Regions from separate parts of the Homo sapiens genome. Here region 1 is linked to region 2. The links come from fine-mapping of genetic effects on plasma protein levels. A gene starts in region 2. The other region holds a variant in brackets. All regions are shown on one strand. Distances are between the middles of the regions.

What was found. PIP is the posterior inclusion probability: the model's chance that the variant is causal. Protein levels are from antibody-based Olink assays in UK Biobank. Linkage for the fine-mapping came from a reference panel and not from the study's own genotypes, which makes the PIPs less certain.
Region 1: its variant is fine-mapped to the plasma level of the NPTXR protein (UK Biobank, PIP above 0.99). The variant lies in the coding sequence of NPTXR. If it changes the protein, the assay may bind it differently, which can mimic a change of level.

Annotation. Positions count from the first base shown.
Region 1 is chr22:38,823,433-38,832,500 of GRCh38, reverse strand. It overlaps NPTXR (neuronal pentraxin receptor), which reads left to right. Exons shown (of 5, transcript NM_014293.4): 2 at 3,989-4,214; 3 at 5,754-6,001. Among named protein-coding and RNA genes, the nearest start is that of NPTXR, 16 kb to the left of the region's middle. The variant C/T (reference allele first, on the strand shown) is at 5,879.
Region 2 is chr22:38,840,425-38,849,492 of GRCh38, reverse strand. It overlaps NPTXR (neuronal pentraxin receptor), which reads left to right and starts at 5,465. Exons shown (of 5, transcript NM_014293.4): 1 at 5,465-6,258. The coding sequence starts at 5,635. RefSeq lists a silencer at 5,877-5,946.

The sequences.
Region 1 (9,068 bases), 17 kb after region 2:
ATGGCTGAGCCAGGCCTAGAACAAGGGGCTCTGGCTCTAGGCCCAGCACACTTACGCCAAACCCCACCCCGGACTCCCAGCGGGACAGGCCATGGGTTCCCAGCCTCCACCTTTCTGCCCCAGCAGGAGCTGAGTGGGGGTGCTGGCGTCATCATTCCCTCCATCATCTTAGGTGAGGGGCCCAGTTGGCATCGGGCCGGGAGCCCACGCGGCACAGCCTGCGCCCACAGCAGATGGGAAGTGGGGGTGCGGGAGTCGTGTTCTTCTGATTCAGACACTGGGACGGGGAGGGACTCACACACGATCCGGCGAGCCCACCTCCTCCATGGCCTTCCTGGCCGCTGCAGAGCCAGTGGCTCTGACAAAAGAACAGCTTGAGCGCACACCCCCTCAGCCCGCACGTTTTCTCCTCCAAACAGCGTCTGTTTAAATAGCCTCGACTCCCTGTTCTTGCTGGCAGATCTTCCTCCCTCTGTTCTTCCTGGCAAGTCTTCCTCCCTCTCTCCCTTTGCTGGAGAGAGGAGATGCTGGCTCCAGGGGTATCGGTTTGGCCCAGCCCCATTGCTATAGACAATTCAAAACGACTCCTGCCTTGGTTTCCCATCTGTGAAATGGGGATACGAAGAGTGCCAGCCTCAGCGAGCAGCTGCGAGGATTCATGAGTAAACACATGCCAAGTGCCTATGATGGGCCCGGTGCACAGCCTCACTCCCGCATGCCCCTCTGGCCTCAAGCTTGGCACAGAGCGGGTGGAGAACTGAGGACAGAACAGTACCTGGGACCAGGGACACCCTGCCCCAGCCCGCCCTTCCAGCCCTGAGATGAAATGCGCCCCTTGAGCTGATTGCCTCAGTCCAAGGCTTCCTGGAAGTCCAGCCATCTCGAATGCAGTGGGTGGCTGACCCTGTCACCCTGTGGGCCATCCAGTGTCACCTGAAGGCTCTGGAGGTAATGAGCGCCCCATCAGCTAATGTAGTCAAGCCCCACAGTTGGCATTATGCTTTTATAGTCCATGAGGGCCTGTCACTTGTCCTCCCATCCTTCCATCTGTCCTGGGAATGAACAAGAGGAAGTCTGTTTCACCCCACACACACTTTTTTTTGTCTCGCTCTGTTGCTCAGGCTGGAGTGCAGTGGTATGATCATGACTCACCGCAGCCTCAACCTCCTGGGCTTAAGCAATCCTCCTGCCTCAGCCACCCAAGTGGCTGGGGCCACAGGCATGCACCACCATGCCTGGCTAATCTTTGTATTTCTTGTAGAGATGGGGTTTCGCCATGTTGCCCAGGCTGGTCTCGAACTCCAGGGCTCAAGCGCCTGTCTTGGCCTCCCAAAGTGCTGGGATTACACACATGAGCCACCATGCCCAGCCTGTTCCCGTTTTAGAGGAGGGGAAACCAAGGCTTTGTGGTTAGTCTGCACCAGAGTCAGGGTTTATAGGCACCTTGACAGAAGGAGCCCTCGGGAAAGCAAAGATGAATGTAAGCGGGGAGTGCACTGTAAGGCTCCTCGCCCATCCCATGCCCACCTTCACCTGGCCTCCACCCCATCCTCGTGGGCCAAGTAGGCATCTGCGTGGCTGGGAGGCCGTGACCTCTTACACAAGAGGTGGGGGGGGTGGATAATGGTGGCCAGAGTCCCCCCTCTCCCGCTGCTTTCATGGGTCCCTTTCCAGAGCCAGCCTGGACGACCACAGTGACTTGTGTCTGTTGCCCCATCTTACAGCCTGGAATGGAGAGGTTGATCCTCAGCCCCTCCCACTGCCAGCAGAAGAGGGGGGTTGCTGAGTGTGAGTGGCACCAGACCCCCTGCCCTGTGAAGCAACCTCACCTTTCCCATGGGAGCCAAGGGACAGGTGGGACAGAGAGGGAATAGGGCTTCTGGAGAGGCCGCTTGGCAGATGCCAAGAGAGGCTGCGTGGCGAGTGATGCAGAGGGGGCGGGCGAGCCAGACTGCTAGGCTCAGATCCCAGCTCTGCTCCTGCTCCTGGTGTGATCTTAGTTAACTCACCCTAGTTTTCCTGCCCCTGAAATGGGGACACTGGCATGTTAAGTGGATTCAGAGAGGGAATGTTTGCAAGGTGTCTGCTAAGGCTCAGCCGGCAGCAAGAGCGTCCCATTCAGTCTTCCCACCTACCCCATGCACCCAAAACCATGCCCCCGGCACCCACTGTGGGCCAGGCTCTGGGCACTTCCCTTACACGCCATCATTTAATGCTGGCCAGCCCTGGAGGCTGAGCATTCCGTGTCTCCATCTTATAGAAGGGGAAAAATGATCTCGGAGTGTCAGCCCACCTGTCCCTACTCTCACGGGGCAGTGGCAGAGCCGAGGGCCGGTTCCTGCAACTCCTCAAAATGAGGTCACATTGCTGTCCACACTGGCAGCTCCCAAGTCTCGGGCACTGAGCATGGCAGTGGTCCTTTGCCCCCAGCACTCTGATGCAGGGGACGCACTTCTCCCCTTGTCCCATGGCTAGAAAACAGGCTCAGAGAAGTTAAGGAGGAGTGCACAGCTCAGAAGGAACACGCGGCCCTCAGTCACAGCAGCCACCAGCAGTGTCCAGTGTCACCCAGCAAATGACTGACAAGGCCATTGGCTGGGCCAGTGAGGCTGGACAGGGGATTCTATACTTGTCCCAGGCTGCAAGGCCATCCCCTCGCAGCTTAGGAAACTGAGGAAAGGTGGGGTTCTTGGTTTTCTGTTTTGCCTCCAGCCACAACTTCAGCATCTGGGGCAGTGCCCAGCACAATGGGGGTGCCCTCTGAATGTTTGCTCAGTGACTGAATCACAGAATGCAATGAGTTCGTGTCTGGGGCCTAAGCCTGGGAGCAAGGAACTGACTGAGCAAAAACTTCCCAGGCCCCTGGGGAGTTCGCAAGCATCAGGCCTGGTAGCGGGGACCATGGAGGAGGGGGAATCCAGGAGGATGGTGGAGGATGGTGAAGGTTTAATTTAGCTCCTAGCAGCTCATTGAATTATTAATCTCCTACTGACATTTCTGTGACATGTCTGCCACAGACTGTCCCCTTGAAGAGTCTGGACCTGCGGCCTCACCTGCGTTCCTCCACCCCAGAGGGGCCTTCTTCCAGCAGGAGAAGGGGAAGGAAACCCTCCCAGCTCCTGCCCCAGTTCTGCTGCCCTTGGGGTCTTAAGATAAGACAGGCATGTCATGGGGAACTCTGAACACTTAGACCTCATCCCGGGCTGGATGGGGGATGTCAGAGCCTACCCTGGAACACCCTGCCCTAGACAGCAATTGCAATAAGCAGGCTCTGTTTATTGATATTTAATCCTTAGTCCTCCCCACAACTCTCCAAATAGGTGCAGCTCTCTTTTGAGTAAACAAGTTCAGAGAAGTCAGGATATTTTCTCAGAGTCACATAGCAGATTGGTTACCGAGCTGGTTTTGAACCCTGGGCTGTCTGACTCCAAAGTATGTGATTTCAACCACCTGTCACCCTGGTATGGTCAAGCCACCGGGGCCCTGCTCCAGAAGTCCCTGTTTCACGCCCTGAGTGGGCCCAGTGGCCATACAGAGCCTTTTGCCAAGGACCGTTCTAGAGAAGCTTGCTGAGTGAGGGAATGAAGACTAAGATGGTCCGCCCCTTTACCAGCCTATCAGTGTCTAGCCTTGCTGCTATGAAGGACTAGGGTGGGGCGTTCAGCCCCAGCTGCACCCTGAAACCACCTGGGGGACCTTCACAGCACTCATGGCCACGCCCCACACCCCCACCACAGCCTGAGCTGTCCTTGAGGGCCGGGGCCAGCTCTGCCTGCTGCTCGCCGTCATGTGCCAGCACCAGGAACAGAGCCTGCCAGGGACCCAGGATGCATCTGTTGCCTGATGTTGGCCATTGTCATTCCCATTTTGCATACTGGGGAAGCTGAGGCTCCCCTGGGGTCACTGAGCAGGGGCGGTAGGCATCTGAGTGTTCCCAGCCTGTCCTTCCTCCCCTCAGTTGATTTCTGTTTCTCTGCCCTGTGAACAGCAGGAGCTTCCAGCCCGTGTGAACCTCTCAGCTGCCCCAGCCCCAGTCTCTGCTGTGCCCACCGGCCTACACTCCAAGATGGACCAGCTGGAGGGGCAGCTGCTGGCCCAGGTGCTGGCACTGGAGAAGGAGCGTGTGGCCCTCAGCCACAGCAGCCGCCGGCAGAGGCAGGAAGTGGAAAAGGAGTTGGACGTCCTGCAGGGTCGTGTGGCTGAGCTGGAGCACGGTGGGTCCTGGGTCCTGCAGAGGGCATTGGAGGGGTCCTCAGGATGACAGAGCCATTCAAAAAATATATCCATGCTCCCCGGAGGCTAACATCGACAGACTGGAGGGTGGGGAGGAGGCTGTGGAACACACAGTGGAGAGAATCATTGGGGGATATTGTTATCATTATCAACATTATTAACAGATCTCATTTTCTGGCACTTACTGTGTCCTGGGAGTGGGCTAAGTACTTGATACATCAGCTGATTTAATCCACAGTTTTCACAGATGAGAAGACCGAAGCTCAGAGAAGTCAAGTGACATGCTCAAGGTCACACAGACAAAAGTGGCGGGTCTGGACCTCAAACAAGGTCTGACTCCACAACCATACATTTAACCACCCACAAAATAGCATTTTCAATGACTTGGTCAGGATTTTGTTTAACACTTGTGCCTGGCACTGCCAAGGGGTCAAAGGAACATAATGGGCAGGGTACAGGTATAAGCATAAGGAGACCTGGCTCCTGGTTGCATATCTGTCTCTGGCTTGCTCTGTGACCTCAGAAGTTCACTTCCTTCCCCAGGCCTCAGTTTTCCTCATCTGAGAAATAGGGGTTTAGGACTCATGAGCTCTCAAAGACCTTTCAGCTTTCAATTCTTGTGAAGACCACCCTTAAGAGGCTTACAGACAAGTTGGGGAGAACAGGAGAAATGGTGAGCAGTTAGCTGGGACCAGCTTACATGGGGAACAGGGGTTCAGGAGAAGAAAATCCAGGCCCAGGCATGGTGGCTCATGCCTGTTATCCCGACACTTTGGGAGGTTGAGGTGGGCGGATCACCTGAGGTCAGGAGTTCAAGGCCAGCCTGCCCATCATGGCAAAACCCCATTTCTACTAAAAATGCAAAAATTAGCTGGGTGTGGTGGTGCATACCTGTAATCCCAGCTACTCGGGAGGCTGGGGCAGGAGAATTGCTTGAGCCTGGGAGGTGAAGGTCGCAGTGAGCTGGGCAACAGAGGGAAACTCCGTCTCAAAAAAAAAAAAAAAAAGAAAGAAAAAAAGAAAAAGAAAAGAAAAGAAAGAATATCCAAGCTGCTTCCTGGAGGAGGCAGGCCTCAAGCTACTTCTTGAAAACAGTGGTGAGGAGCAAATTTCAGAATGGAGGGGCCATCGCAGGGGCACAGCTGCAGGGGAGGGACAGGTCTGGTGGCTCAGGGCCAGCATCCTAGGTGGAGCACAGGAACAGGAGAAGCAACCTCCAGCCCTCCTCAGCCCTGCCTCTGGCCTGTCTACCCCGGGTCTCCCAACAAGTTTAATTTGTTGACGGTCACGTGGCTGGGAAGTGGGGGAGACGAGATTTGGTCTCAGGACATCTAAGGTCCAGAGCCCCTGCACTTTAATCACACCCCTCAACACAGAGGTGGAGCAGAGAGAGCCCTGAAGGCACTGGGCATGCAGCAGGTGCCTGGGAGCTGTTAGCCATCTTTCTGAAGTGTGCCCTGTCCACCCCACCCTTTTCGGTGTCCACCGACCTCCACCATGTCTGCCTTGCCCACCCTCAGGGTCCTCAGCCTACAGTCCTCCAGATGCCTTCAAGATCAGCATCCCCATCCGTAACAACTACATGTACGCCCGCGTGCGGAAGGCTCTGCCCGAGCTCTACGCATTCACCGCCTGCATGTGGCTG[C/T]GGTCCAGGTCCAGCGGCACCGGCCAGGGCACCCCCTTCTCCTACTCAGTGCCCGGGCAGGCCAACGAGATTGTACTGCTAGAGGCGGGCCATGAGCCCATGGAGCTGCTGATCAACGACAAGGTAGGCAGGGCTGGCAGGGAGGGCTGGCTGGGGGAGGGCCACCCTTCCAGAAGCACCCACTCCACACTGGGCTCTTTCATTCTCCTGCTCATTCTCCTGCTCTGCATATTCAGCACACATTAAGTACCTACCGTGTGCTAGGCTGGGCTCTGGGAATATAAAGACAAGCCAGACATGGAGCTGCCGGAAGAGAGGCTGTGTCCAATAGAGGCTCTAAGTGTTGTTCCATTTTACAGAGGAGGCAAGTGAAGCTCTTGGGGATCCAGTGACTTCCCCAGTGACCCAGCTATGGGACAGGGCTGAGGTGTCTGCCCCCAGGGCCCTGCTCATCATCCTGGACTTAAAGAGAAGGGAGGTGGCCGGGCGCACTGGCTCATGCCTGTAATCCCAGCACTTTGGGAGGCCGAGGCGGGCGGATCACGAGGTCAGGAGATTGAGACCATCCTGGCTAACATGGTGAAACCCCATCTCTACTAAAAATACAAAAAAATTAGCCGGGTGTGGTGGTGGGCACCTGTAGTCCCAGCTACTCGGGAGGCTGAGGCAGGAGAATGGCCAGAACCCGAGAGGCAGAGCTTGCAGTGAGCTAAGATCGCACCACTGCACTCCAGCCTGGGCGACAGAGGAAGACTCTGTGTCAAAAAAAAAAAAAAAAAAAAGAGAGAGAGAGAAGGGAGGTGCACAGACCTACCTGGGGATGGAGGGAGGAAGGGAGTGCTTGTGGCCTCCTCGTTCCTTCTACTTCCCTGGAGCCAGCCCCTCGGGCCCTCCCCGCTATGGAGAGTAGAAAGGTGTTGTGCTCAGGCTCTGGGACCCAAATGCTGGTTTGAGTCTTGGTTCTGCATCTTCACCATTGTGTGACCTCAGACTAGTCTTCTACTTGCCCTGTGCCTCAGTTTGCTTATCTCTAAAGCAGGAATGATAAGAACTCTTGTCTCTTAGGGTTGTAGTGAGAAGTGGCTTAAATGCATGTAGAGGGCTTTGAGCAGATCCTAGCGTTTAGCAGACATCAATAACTGTGAGCTATTTTTATTATACTGGGCACTGTGCTAATAAGCAGTTTACTCACATTATTACCCTTGACCTTCCCAACAGCACTGGGAAGTAGGTACCCTCATTATCCCCATTTTGCAGATGGAGAAACTGAGGCTCAGAGAGGGGAAGTAATGCACCCTGGCCACACAGCTGCTGGGGTGTGATGTGATTCAGGGTCTTGGGCTCCGGAAACCACCTTTTAACCCCTCCCCTGTTCTGCCCTTGGGCCACCCATCTTCCTCATGCCCAGGCCTCCCTCCCCGATGCCCCTCCTTCAGCCTGGCTGGAAGGCAGGACAAGGACAAGGCAGGGAGAATGATGTGGCAGGAGCATGGTAATTGAGGGGAGAGGAAGGGGAGCATCTCATCACTGTCATCCACTCCTAAAGCTCCTCCCCAACCTGCCACATTGTTTTGGGCCTTGCAGGCATGGTGGTCTATTGAGACCCCCCTGGAAATGCAGATACCACATATCGTACCCACCTGTGACCAGCCCACAACACATAAAGCCACTAGGAGTGATTGATACCCATCAGACCCAGCTTAGCAGAAGGTGCATTTCATGGCATTCTGGAGGGGGAGGAGGAGGAGGGAGGAGATGAGTCCAGGGACCAGTGACTTTCCCTTGTGGCCCAATAAACCCTACGACCACCGGGGTGGCTGGACTACATCTAGATCCTGCTGCCTTGTGCCCTTCATCACCCCCTGGCTGCCGTCCTTGGCCTGGCCCAAGTTCAGCACTCAGTTCTCATTAGAAGGAATTCAGCACCCTGGACAGGGCATTGGGCAGCCCTGTTCTGGGACGCTCTAGAGTCCTTTTGAGAGCCAGCCTAACAGACTGCTCACTGTTCCCTTTTTATTCCAGCCTCTAAGCCTTTACTCCTTCTGTGCCCACCACTTGTTTTGCCTAGCAATGGAATGGTGGATCCATTGTCCTTCCAGACGGGTTTTGACGTGGCTTCTGTTCCCATATCCCCTCTACCTCTGGGCCTCGCAGCCTCTGTACCTCCCATATGCCCTCCGTTATTTTGTCTTATAGCATTGCCCCAAAGTCCTTCCCCTCCTGCAGACTCAGCTCATTTAAGGCGTGGACCAGCTCCACATCCCCAGGATCCACAACAAGGCCAGGCACCACGTAGGCCTCAGAGAATGTTACATTAAATTGTGATCTCAGGCTGGGTAAGGTGGCTCTTGCCTGTAATCCCAGCACTCTGAGAGGCTGAGGTGGGTGGATCATCTGAGGTCAGGAGTTCAAGACCAGGCTGGCCAATATGGTGAAATCCCGCCGTTTCTACTAAAAATACAAAAAAAAAAAAAAAAAAATAGCTGGGCATGGTGGTGCACGCCTGTAATCCCAGCTACTTGGGAGGCTGAGGGAGGAGAATTGCTTGAACCAGGAGATGGAGGCTGTGGTGAGCTGAGATCACACCACTGCACTCTATCCTGGGCAACATAGTGAAATTCCATCTCAAAAAAAAAAATGTGACCTCAGGAAACTTACCAGATGAGGAAGCCCTTTGGGAGCACCAAATCCACAGACAGCAAGCACCTTTCATCTTACAGGCCAGCTCTAACCCATCAGCAGTGGCTTTCCAGAGCACTGTGCTGAGGGATCTGAGCTAAATCGAGGCTCGTGATTGATTGGCTATGTCTGCCCTGGGTGGAGGAAGATTTGCCATCCCTTGCAGACTTGTCATCCCTTGTCTGACCTCACTTTACAGATAAGGAAACTGAGGCCCAGGGAGGAAGGAGCAGCCTCCCCAGATCACACAGGGGTTGGTGGCAGAGCCAGGGCCAGATGCTGGAGCCTGGCCTCTGAGTCCAAGGCTCATTCTATCCCTGCCAGTACTTCTTGAGCCCTAGCTGTGTGCTGAGTGCTGTGTGAGGTGTTCAGGGGAAGTTGGGATTATGAGACATCCCTCTCTCCCCAAGTGACCTTAATAGGCCTGTTGGAGAGTGAGTGAACTACCTTGTGACAACTGAAAACCAAAACCAGAGAGTCCCTTGTGATCTGGTTTGGTCTTTGAGGAAAG
Region 2 (9,068 bases):
TGTCTTGAGTCCCTGGGAGAGATTTTACACACATCTCACCTGCCCTCATTTCCTTCCCATTACAATCCTATACATAGGTACCACTGGCTCCACCTTACAGGTGAGGAGACTGAGGCAGCTCAGGTCTTGAGACCGGACCTAGATGGAGACTTCAGGATGGACACAGACACTCTCTTTGTCCCCAATCTCTTTACCAACCCCCCTGGGGAAAAGAACTCTTTGTTCACAAGCACACCCCAAAAGGTACCACACGTTTTCTCAATAAATGTTTTTTGAGGCCGGGCGCGGTGGCTCACATCTGTAATCCCACCCATCTGCCCAAACTCCTTCACTGGGAGTTTGAGCACCCACGAGTGCCAGCCCTGGAGTCACAGAGAGGAGGGTGCTGCAGCTGGTCCCTGCCCTCGAGGAGCTCACAGTGTGCAGGCAGCAGGGAAAGAGGGAGATGCTAGAGGAGAGGGAAGGATGGAGGTCGAGGGAAGAGAAAGACGTGTGTGTTTCATTGCTATGTGATACATACCAGCACTGAGACAGTGTGGTGGGAGAATGGGTTTGAAGATAGCCAGGGTGACCAACTGTCCGTGTTTGCCCAGGACTGAGAGGTTTCCCAGGATGCTAGCATTTCAGTGCTGACACTGGGAAAATTCCAGGCCAGATGGGATGAGTTCGTCACCCTAAGCCTGTGTTCAAATCCTGGCTCTGCCATGTGCCTGGTGAAACCGCCAGTTACCTAATTAGCATCCAATCACCCATCTTTTAGAAATGACTTTATTACAGTCTAAAGGCCTTCCCTGTGCAATTCCTCTTTCTCCCTCCTCCCCCCTTTTAAAAGTGTATCTCAGTTCAAAAAACTTTTATTTTTATTTTTGTATTGAGACGGCATCTCACTCTGTCACCCAGGCTGGAGTACAGTGGCACAATCACAACTTACTGCAGCCCCGACCCCTTGGACTAGAGATCCTCTTGCCTCGGTCTTTCAAGTAGCTGGGACTACCGGTGCGTGCCACCACACCCAGGTAATTTTTGTATTTTTTGCAGAGACGGGGTTTCACCATGTTGCCTGGGCTGGTCTTGAACTCCTGGGCTCAAGACATTCTCCTGCCTTCGCCTCCCAAAGTGCTGGGATTACAGGTGTGAGCCACCATGCCTGGCCTCAAAAAACATTATTGAGAAAATACCACGGGCTTTCCTAGGCTCCGGGGAATGAAAGAATGTTCTTTCCCCTTTTATCAGCAGAGACAATGACTGGGAGAATGATTAGATGGACAGGGGAAGAATCCATGATGCCTCTTGCAGCCTGAGGCCAACTGCAGTAGCGGACACTGGTGTTCTTCCCACTAACCTCCCCCTTCCAGGTGTCCCTAAGGAAGAGAGGCCACGGGCACCTTGGAGGGACTACTCCTGACCGTGTATGGAGAACTGGACCTTGGTGTAAGGAATGGACCATGGCAGCCAGGGAGGGGCCCCCTTAGCTCTCCATTCAACAACAACTTTGCCACTCAGCAGCAGGTGAGGCAGTTAGCAGACGCTCTCCAACTTCATGATCCACCTCAGCTTCTGAGCTGAAGCCTTGCTCTTCTGGGGCAACTTCCAGCCAATGACTCAGGGTGAAAAGGGCACCATAGAGACAGGCCATTTGTGCCTGATGCAAAAACTCCCTCGTGGGCAGTCTCGGCCCCAGAGCTCCCTGTCGGGGTGGCCAACACTTTGTTAGATCAGCACCGAAGTCAGAGGTTCTCCCTGCCCGATTCTGTTTCTGGCCCTCTTATCTTTCACAGGACATCACCCCCAATAAAGCACTTGCACTTCCAACCCCATCTCAGTGTCCGCTTCCTGGAGGACCCAACTGACAAACACTACCTGTAAAACAGATTCATCCACGTCTCTCCACCACCACCAATTCCAAGTCACCATTACTTGGAGAAGCACCTGGAGGGAGGCATAGCCCTCCAATTGTAACCCCCCTACTTCCTCTTGTTTTGTTTGTTTGTTTTTGTTTTTGAGACAGGGTCTCTGTCGCCCAGACTGCAGTGCAGTGGCGTGATCTCGGCTCACCGCAACCTCCGCCTCCCAGGCTCAAGTGATTCTCTTGCCCAGCCTCCCGAATAGCTGGGATTACAGGCGCGCACCACTACCACCTGGCTAATTTTTGTATTTTTAGTAGAGACGGGGTTTCACCATGTTGGCCAGGCTGGCCTAGAACTCCTGACCTCAAACGATCCACCCGCCTTGGCCTCCCAAAGTGCTGGGATTACAGGCATGAGTCACCGCTCCCGGCCCTCTGTTATCTCTTTGTAACCCAGTCTCCAGACAACTGCCAGAGTGGTCTTTTAAAAACACAGTCCAGGTGATATCACTTCCGTGCTTCAGCCCTCCAGTTGGGCTTCGAGTCAGACCCACTCCCTTCCCGGAGCCTGTAAATCTCTACACGGCCCCCACCTTCCTGTCCAGCTTCCTCCCTCCCCTACATCTCACTCTGCCTCTAGCCCCACTCTGTTCCTTCTGTTCCTGAAATATATTACGCTCCTTTCTGCCCCAGGGCCTTTGCACTAGCGGTTCCCTCTGCCTAGAACACACCATCTTTCCCCAGACTTCTGCATGGCTGGTTTCCCAGGTCATTTAGGTCTGAGCTCCAATGCAGGCCTTTTCTGACCACCTTATAAATACTGCCCACCTCCCAATTCCCCCTTCCTACTTCCTGTAACTTTCTATAACATCACTTGAAGATTTTTCTTTGTCATTCTCATCATTATTGGAAATTAACTTGTTTACTTAGTTATTCATTTGTTTACTGCCTGCCTCCCCACTGGAATATAAACTGCGTGAGCTTGTCTTGTTCCCAGCTCTCTCCAATGCTTGGCACTATGCCTGGCACAATGTAGGTCTCAAAACATATTTTCTAAAATGAATTCCTATATTTGTTATATATGGCAGAATTCCCTTGGCCTAAGAATGGAATGAAAGTGAAGAAATTTAAAAAAAAAAAAACTAGGAGTCATGACAATTCAGAGGGAAAATATAGGAACTATTCCAGTTTTAGGGAAGTTCCCCTGAGAATACTTCTCTGCCCATCCCTTGAGGAATCCTGTGTTAGGATTAAGGGGGGTCTCTCCCAGGACCCAGGAGAGACGAGTTTTGGGACTTCTCTGTCCTCTCCTCCTTCCTCTGCCTCCAGCAGTGGCATTAGGAACTAGTTCAGCAAACATTCACCGAGAAGCTTCCCTGGGCAGGCTTCATGCTGAATGCTGGGGATAGAGATGGGCCAAGGAAGAAGGGAGAGGCTGGGCGCCATGGCTCACGCCTGTAATCCCAGCACTTTGGGAGGCCGAGGCAGGTGGATCACCTGAGGTCAGGAGTTCAAGACCAGCCTGGCCAACATATTGAAACTCCATCTCTACTAAAAATACAAAAATTAGCTGGGCGTGGTGGCGTGCACCTGTAGTCCCAGCTACTTGGGAGACTGAGGCAGGAGAATTGCTTGAACCCGCAAGGCAGAGGTTCCAGTGAGCCGAGATCACGCCACCGCACTGCAGCCTGGGTGACAGAGCAAGACTCTGTCTCAAAAATAAAATAAAATAAAAAATAAAGTCATTCTAGGAGATCAACAGACCAGTTTAAACACAATTTGACTCCAGCCTCTGGACCCATTTATCCAAACTGTCCCCAAAGTCTCAGGGGGCAGCTCAGGTAAAGGTGGCACCATTTGGTGCCCAAGTCACAGTGGCTCTGCTGCTCTTGGCAGCAGCCCTCTCTCTTGGCATCTCCTGTCCTTCCCTGGACTTCCTATGACAGTTTCTCCTGGGGATGCTATCTCCGTGTTTCTGTCTTCACGGCACACGTGTAGATGTACCAGGAGTCCCGATGTCTCATGCATCCCCAGGACTTTAGCAGGGCCTACCGCTGGCCTTTGCCTTCCAAGAGCCCAGCCCATCTCTCTGTCCATGAGATGCTTCCTCCAAGCCCAGCTGCCTGCCCTGGGTTTTGAGGTTACGACTTCAGTGAGCACCAGCACACATCCACGCACACACAGCACTCAGGTTCCTGGCATACAGCGCTTGTGTTTGCTTCTCTCCTCTTTCACAACTCAGGTATGGATGAAAATCCCTGGCTCCTAGAGATGGGTGAACAGGGTGGACATCATCCTAACATGTGTGGAGAGAGGGAGGTGGAGCACGTGTGCCTGGGAACACTGGACAAAATCCCCGTGGCTGGAGAGCGTCCCCCAGGGTTGTGGCTTCCTGGGAAACATTCCGGTCTCTCCCCACCACCAGCGCTATGTGAAGTACACTCGAAACCACAGTGGTAGCCGTGGTGGTCCAGAGATCCTGGTTTGCGCTTTCCCTTCAAGTCAAAAATGCAGGCTTGGAAGGGAGACAGAGCTGGGAATAACCACAGCCCTCCCAAGGCCCTTCCAGCCCTGGGAATCCGTATTGGTCAGGAAAGACCTCATGGAAAATTGGAGCTGGGGATAAAGTGTGGAGGATAGTAGGATTGTTTTTAAGTTTTTAATTGCAAAGTTAATTTTCAACAAAATATATATAGACATTTTTGACAGAAGAAAGTAAAACGCTCCTCTGCCACCCCCACAGCACAGCCCACTCCCATTCCTGCTGTTCCTTCTGGGCCTGGTCCACATGCCCACCAGGCACGTGGCACCGCTTGCCAACGAAGGCAGACTGCAGTGGGGGTGGGGGGTTTCTCTGGACCTGTGAGGCTCTAAGCCCCCAAGGATTCAGAGGAGAGAATTTCCATCATCCTCTGAGATCACAGGAAGATTCTGTAATGAGGGTGGCGGGGAGTGAACTCTGCTCCTTCAGAAGGTTGGAGGTGGGGGTGACGGGCAGGTGGCCACAGTATAAACAGAAGTTAGGTCAAAATCCGAGCCTCCCCCCAACCCCCAACACTGGCCTCTTCTCCACCTCTAACCGCTCCCACTCCAGCCCCATCCACAGTCTGGTCCGGTGAAACGTGCCTAAGCTCGCAGGCGGCTCCAACGCAGCCACCCGGTGACCTTGGACAGAGGCCTGACCTCAGGTGTCTCAGTTTCCTCATTTCTATTGTGAGCCTGTCCACGGCAAGGCTCAATTGCGACCGAGCTTGTGGCGCGCCCAGTGCACAGCCCCACCCGGAAGAAAGCTCCCTCCCGGGTGGATGTGAACATAACCGGCTTGGGGAGGGGGCCCGAGCACGGGAGGGCTGGGATGGGGGTCACCCAGGAGCCCCGCCGCGCGGCCCTCGGGTCGCCGGCCCCTGCGCTGTGACCGCGGCGAGATAAGGTCCCAGGCGCTGCCCTCGCTCCTCGCCGCATCCCCGGCGGCGCCCCCAGCCGGGCGCCCGGCACTGAACGGGTGCGGGGCTGGGCCGGGGCCAGGGCCGGCCCGGGGAAGCGAGTGGGGCGGGGCCGCCGCGCCCGCTCCCCCTCCCCGCCGCCTGCCGTCTTCTCCTCCTCCCGCCGCCCGGGCTCAGAGCGGCGGCAGCAGCGGCCGCGGCGACAGCTCCAGCTCCGGCTCCGGCTCCGGCTCCGGCTCCGGCTCCCGCGCCTGCCCCGCTCGGCCCAGCGCGCCCGGGCTCCGCGCCCCGACCCCGCCGCCGCGCCTGCCGGGGGCCTCGGGCGCCCCCGCCGCCCGCCTCACGCTGAAGTTCCTGGCCGTGCTGCTGGCCGCGGGCATGCTGGCGTTCCTCGGTGCCGTCATCTGCATCATCGCCAGCGTGCCCCTGGCGGCCAGCCCGGCGCGGGCGCTGCCCGGCGGCGCCGACAATGCTTCGGTCGCCTCGGGCGCCGCCGCGTCCCCGGGCCCGCAGCGGAGCCTGAGCGCGCTGCACGGCGCGGGCGGTTCAGCCGGGCCCCCCGCGCTGCCCGGGGCACCCGCGGCCAGCGCGCACCCGCTGCCGCCCGGGCCCCTGTTCAGCCGCTTCCTGTGCACGCCGCTGGCTGCTGCCTGCCCGTCGGGGGCCCAGCAGGGGGACGCGGCGGGCGCTGCGCCGGGCGAGCGCGAAGAGCTGCTGCTGCTGCAGAGCACGGCCGAGCAGCTGCGCCAGACGGCGCTGCAGCAGGAGGCGCGCATCCGCGCCGACCAGGACACCATCCGTGAGCTCACCGGCAAGCTGGGCCGCTGCGAGAGCGGCCTGCCGCGCGGCCTCCAGGGCGCCGGGCCCCGCCGCGACACCATGGCCGACGGGCCCTGGGACTCGCCTGCGCTCATTCTGGAGCTGGAGGACGCCGTGCGCGCCCTGCGGGACCGCATCGACCGCCTGGAGGTGAGCGCCGCGCGCCGTCGGGGGAGCCGCCCGGGTGGTGTGAGGGGCCGCCCGGCCGCGGTCGTCCGGCGGTCCCCGAGCCTCCGGTCTCCCGTCTGTGTTCCGGGGACGATCGCGCCTTCCTCGCTGGCGAGGCGGGGGGATTTCGATAGGGAACGCGGGCAGGCGTCTGGCACGGTGACTGAGGCACAGAGGGCGCGCCAGAAAGATTCGCTCCCCACCCTTTTCCGTCTCCAGGCACCTCTCTGAGCCTCAGTTTCTGTGTCTGTAAAATAGGTATAACAGTGTCCACTTGTAGTGGAAATTGAATCAAATGTAGGTGTGTGAAAATGCTTGGCACGTACTAGGACCTCATTAAATGTCCCTTTCATTTCCTTCTTCCGGACACCCCCAAATCAGCCCAGCTCCACGCTCACACTTTATGGCCAGGAGATGGATGCGCTGTCCAAAGGACTTGGGGTCCTCCCCTCATTACACAGAGCCGGGAACAGAGTGCCCTATAAGACAAACCTGGGTGCCCCTCACCACCTCCCTACCCTGAATCTCCCACTCTGGCTCAGACTATGACCCAAACCGCAGGAGCTCAGGTGCCAGGCGCCCAGCCTCACACACCTGGAAGCCCACAGCTCTTGGGTGGGGGCTGAATGGAGAACAGGGCCCCCCGAGCTCCTCCTCCTCCACTCACTTTTCCAGGCTTTCCTGACTCAGGCTTGGGGTCAGACACAAGGGGTCCAGCATGGGGGAACCCACTCTTGGCTCTCATGTGACCCTGGGCCAGTCATTTCCCCCCTGGAGTCCCATGGCCACCTTCCTCCCTGTAAGAATGAATTTGGGGCTCCCAGAAGTGCAAGGCAGACAGACTGGGCAGGACAAACATCCGGGACACATTCACTACCCCAGCCATGGCCTGACTTCCAGACCACAAGGAAGGGGGTTAAGCAACAAAATCAGATCTGTGGAAGGAAGAGAGAGAAAGAGGCCAAAGCCCGCGCTGCCCCCTCTGCTACCTCCACCCAGGTGGAGTGCAGCAGGCAAGTTGGAGGGAGGAGAGAGGCGGGGAGTAAATGCAGGGACCCCTTACTCCCGGGGCTTTTTAAGTTAAATCCTGGGCAAGCAGCACTGGTGATGCCCACTCACAAGGCTGAGGATGTCGTGGTCTGACAGCCCTCCAGGACGTCTGTACTGGTGTCAGCACCCTCCCCACAGGGTGTCAGAGTGCAGCCAGTCAGCCATTGCAGCCAACCCCTCACCTTACGGATGAGAAAACTCAGCTCAGAAACGTCCTAAGAGAGGTGGCAGAGGCAGGAGAAAAGCCGGGCCCATACCCACCTCTTCCCCGACTCCAGCTCTGGGGGATTTCTAGGATGAGAGAACCAAGAGCAGGAAAATAATCAGGAAAAAGGTGAAAGTATGCAATGAAGGGAAGTCTTAGTTTTCTCGCCTGTAAAATGGGGATAGTAATAGCACCTACCTCACTGGGATATTAGGAGGATTAAGTACTTTATATGAAAGGCCAAGAATAGTGCCTGGCACACAGGTATGTTCAGTCAATTTGAGTGATGGCTATTTTTATCATTAAGCTATAATATTACTCATTTTTAAAATACAGCCAAAACTCAAAATAGGAACAAACAGGTTTTAGGCAACAGGTTTTAGTCATGTAAAAAACAATTTTTGACTTTCATTGAATAAACTTCCTCGTGCCTGCCATAGCCCCTGCCCCCACGCCCAGATGGCACAGGTGGCTCCTCCCACGTCTGGGGCTGGCAGGCTTGGACCTGCCTTGGACCTGTGCCCCCAGCACCTGCAGCATTTGGCAGGGTGGCCTCCCTTCCGGTTAGCCCGCTGAGGTTGGGGGGATCCTGGCAGCTGGAATTTGGCAACAGGTCAGCCTTCCAGGCTGGGGGAGCCCTGGCTTCCCCATGTATACCTTTTCCTCTTTTCTGAGTGCAGCAGCCACAGACAGAGAAGGGCGGGGCCCTGCTTGGCCACCAGGTCTGCTTTCTGAGCGTGGCAACAGCCACAGCTAGTCTTTTGGGGGCCTCTGGGAGGGGCTGGGGCTGGAGCTGGAGCACAGCAGACACAGGGTGAGACCACTTGGCTCAGCGGAGTCCCATGCACCCGTTAGCCACTGTCCAATCTCTCCCCTCTCTTCTCATTCAGTATCCTCAAAGTGCCCAGATTTTCAGGGTCTCCTTTCCCTCCCAGGATACACTGAAGGTGCTCTTGCTAATGTCCCCAAGATGATAAATGAGGACTTCTCAGTCCTTATCTTGGGGGAACCCTCTCTGACACCTGACCCTGCTGATCATCCCCTCTTGCAGGTCTCCATGCCCTGGGCTTCCAGCCGCCTCTCACAGCAGCCCTCCTCCTCCCTCTGTCTGCTGCCTCTGTCTCCTTGCAGGGTCCTCCTCCTTTAAGGCATGTGCCCGTCTTGGCCCTCACTTTCCCTGGGTACACTCAGCCATGCCCTGAGGCTTCCCACACCCATTCCACGGAGGGGCCCCAAACCAAACTCAGTGTCCAGCCCAGGTTTCCTTCCCAAGCTCCAGACCCATCAACACATCGGCCTCCTGAGCATCTCTCTCTGGTTGTCCCATCAGCCCCCTAACCACACTGTGTTTCAGCTTGAACCAGGTACCTCCATGTGCCCTGAGAAACCATCCTTGGCCCCTCCCTCTCCCCCCAGTTCTGATTGGCCTCATCTCTGTACACGCTTGCAGCAGCCTCCTCTCTGGTCTCATGACTCCAGGCACACCCTTCCCTCCATCCTCCTCCAGGCAGCCCCAAGGGTCTTCCTTAAGCCCACC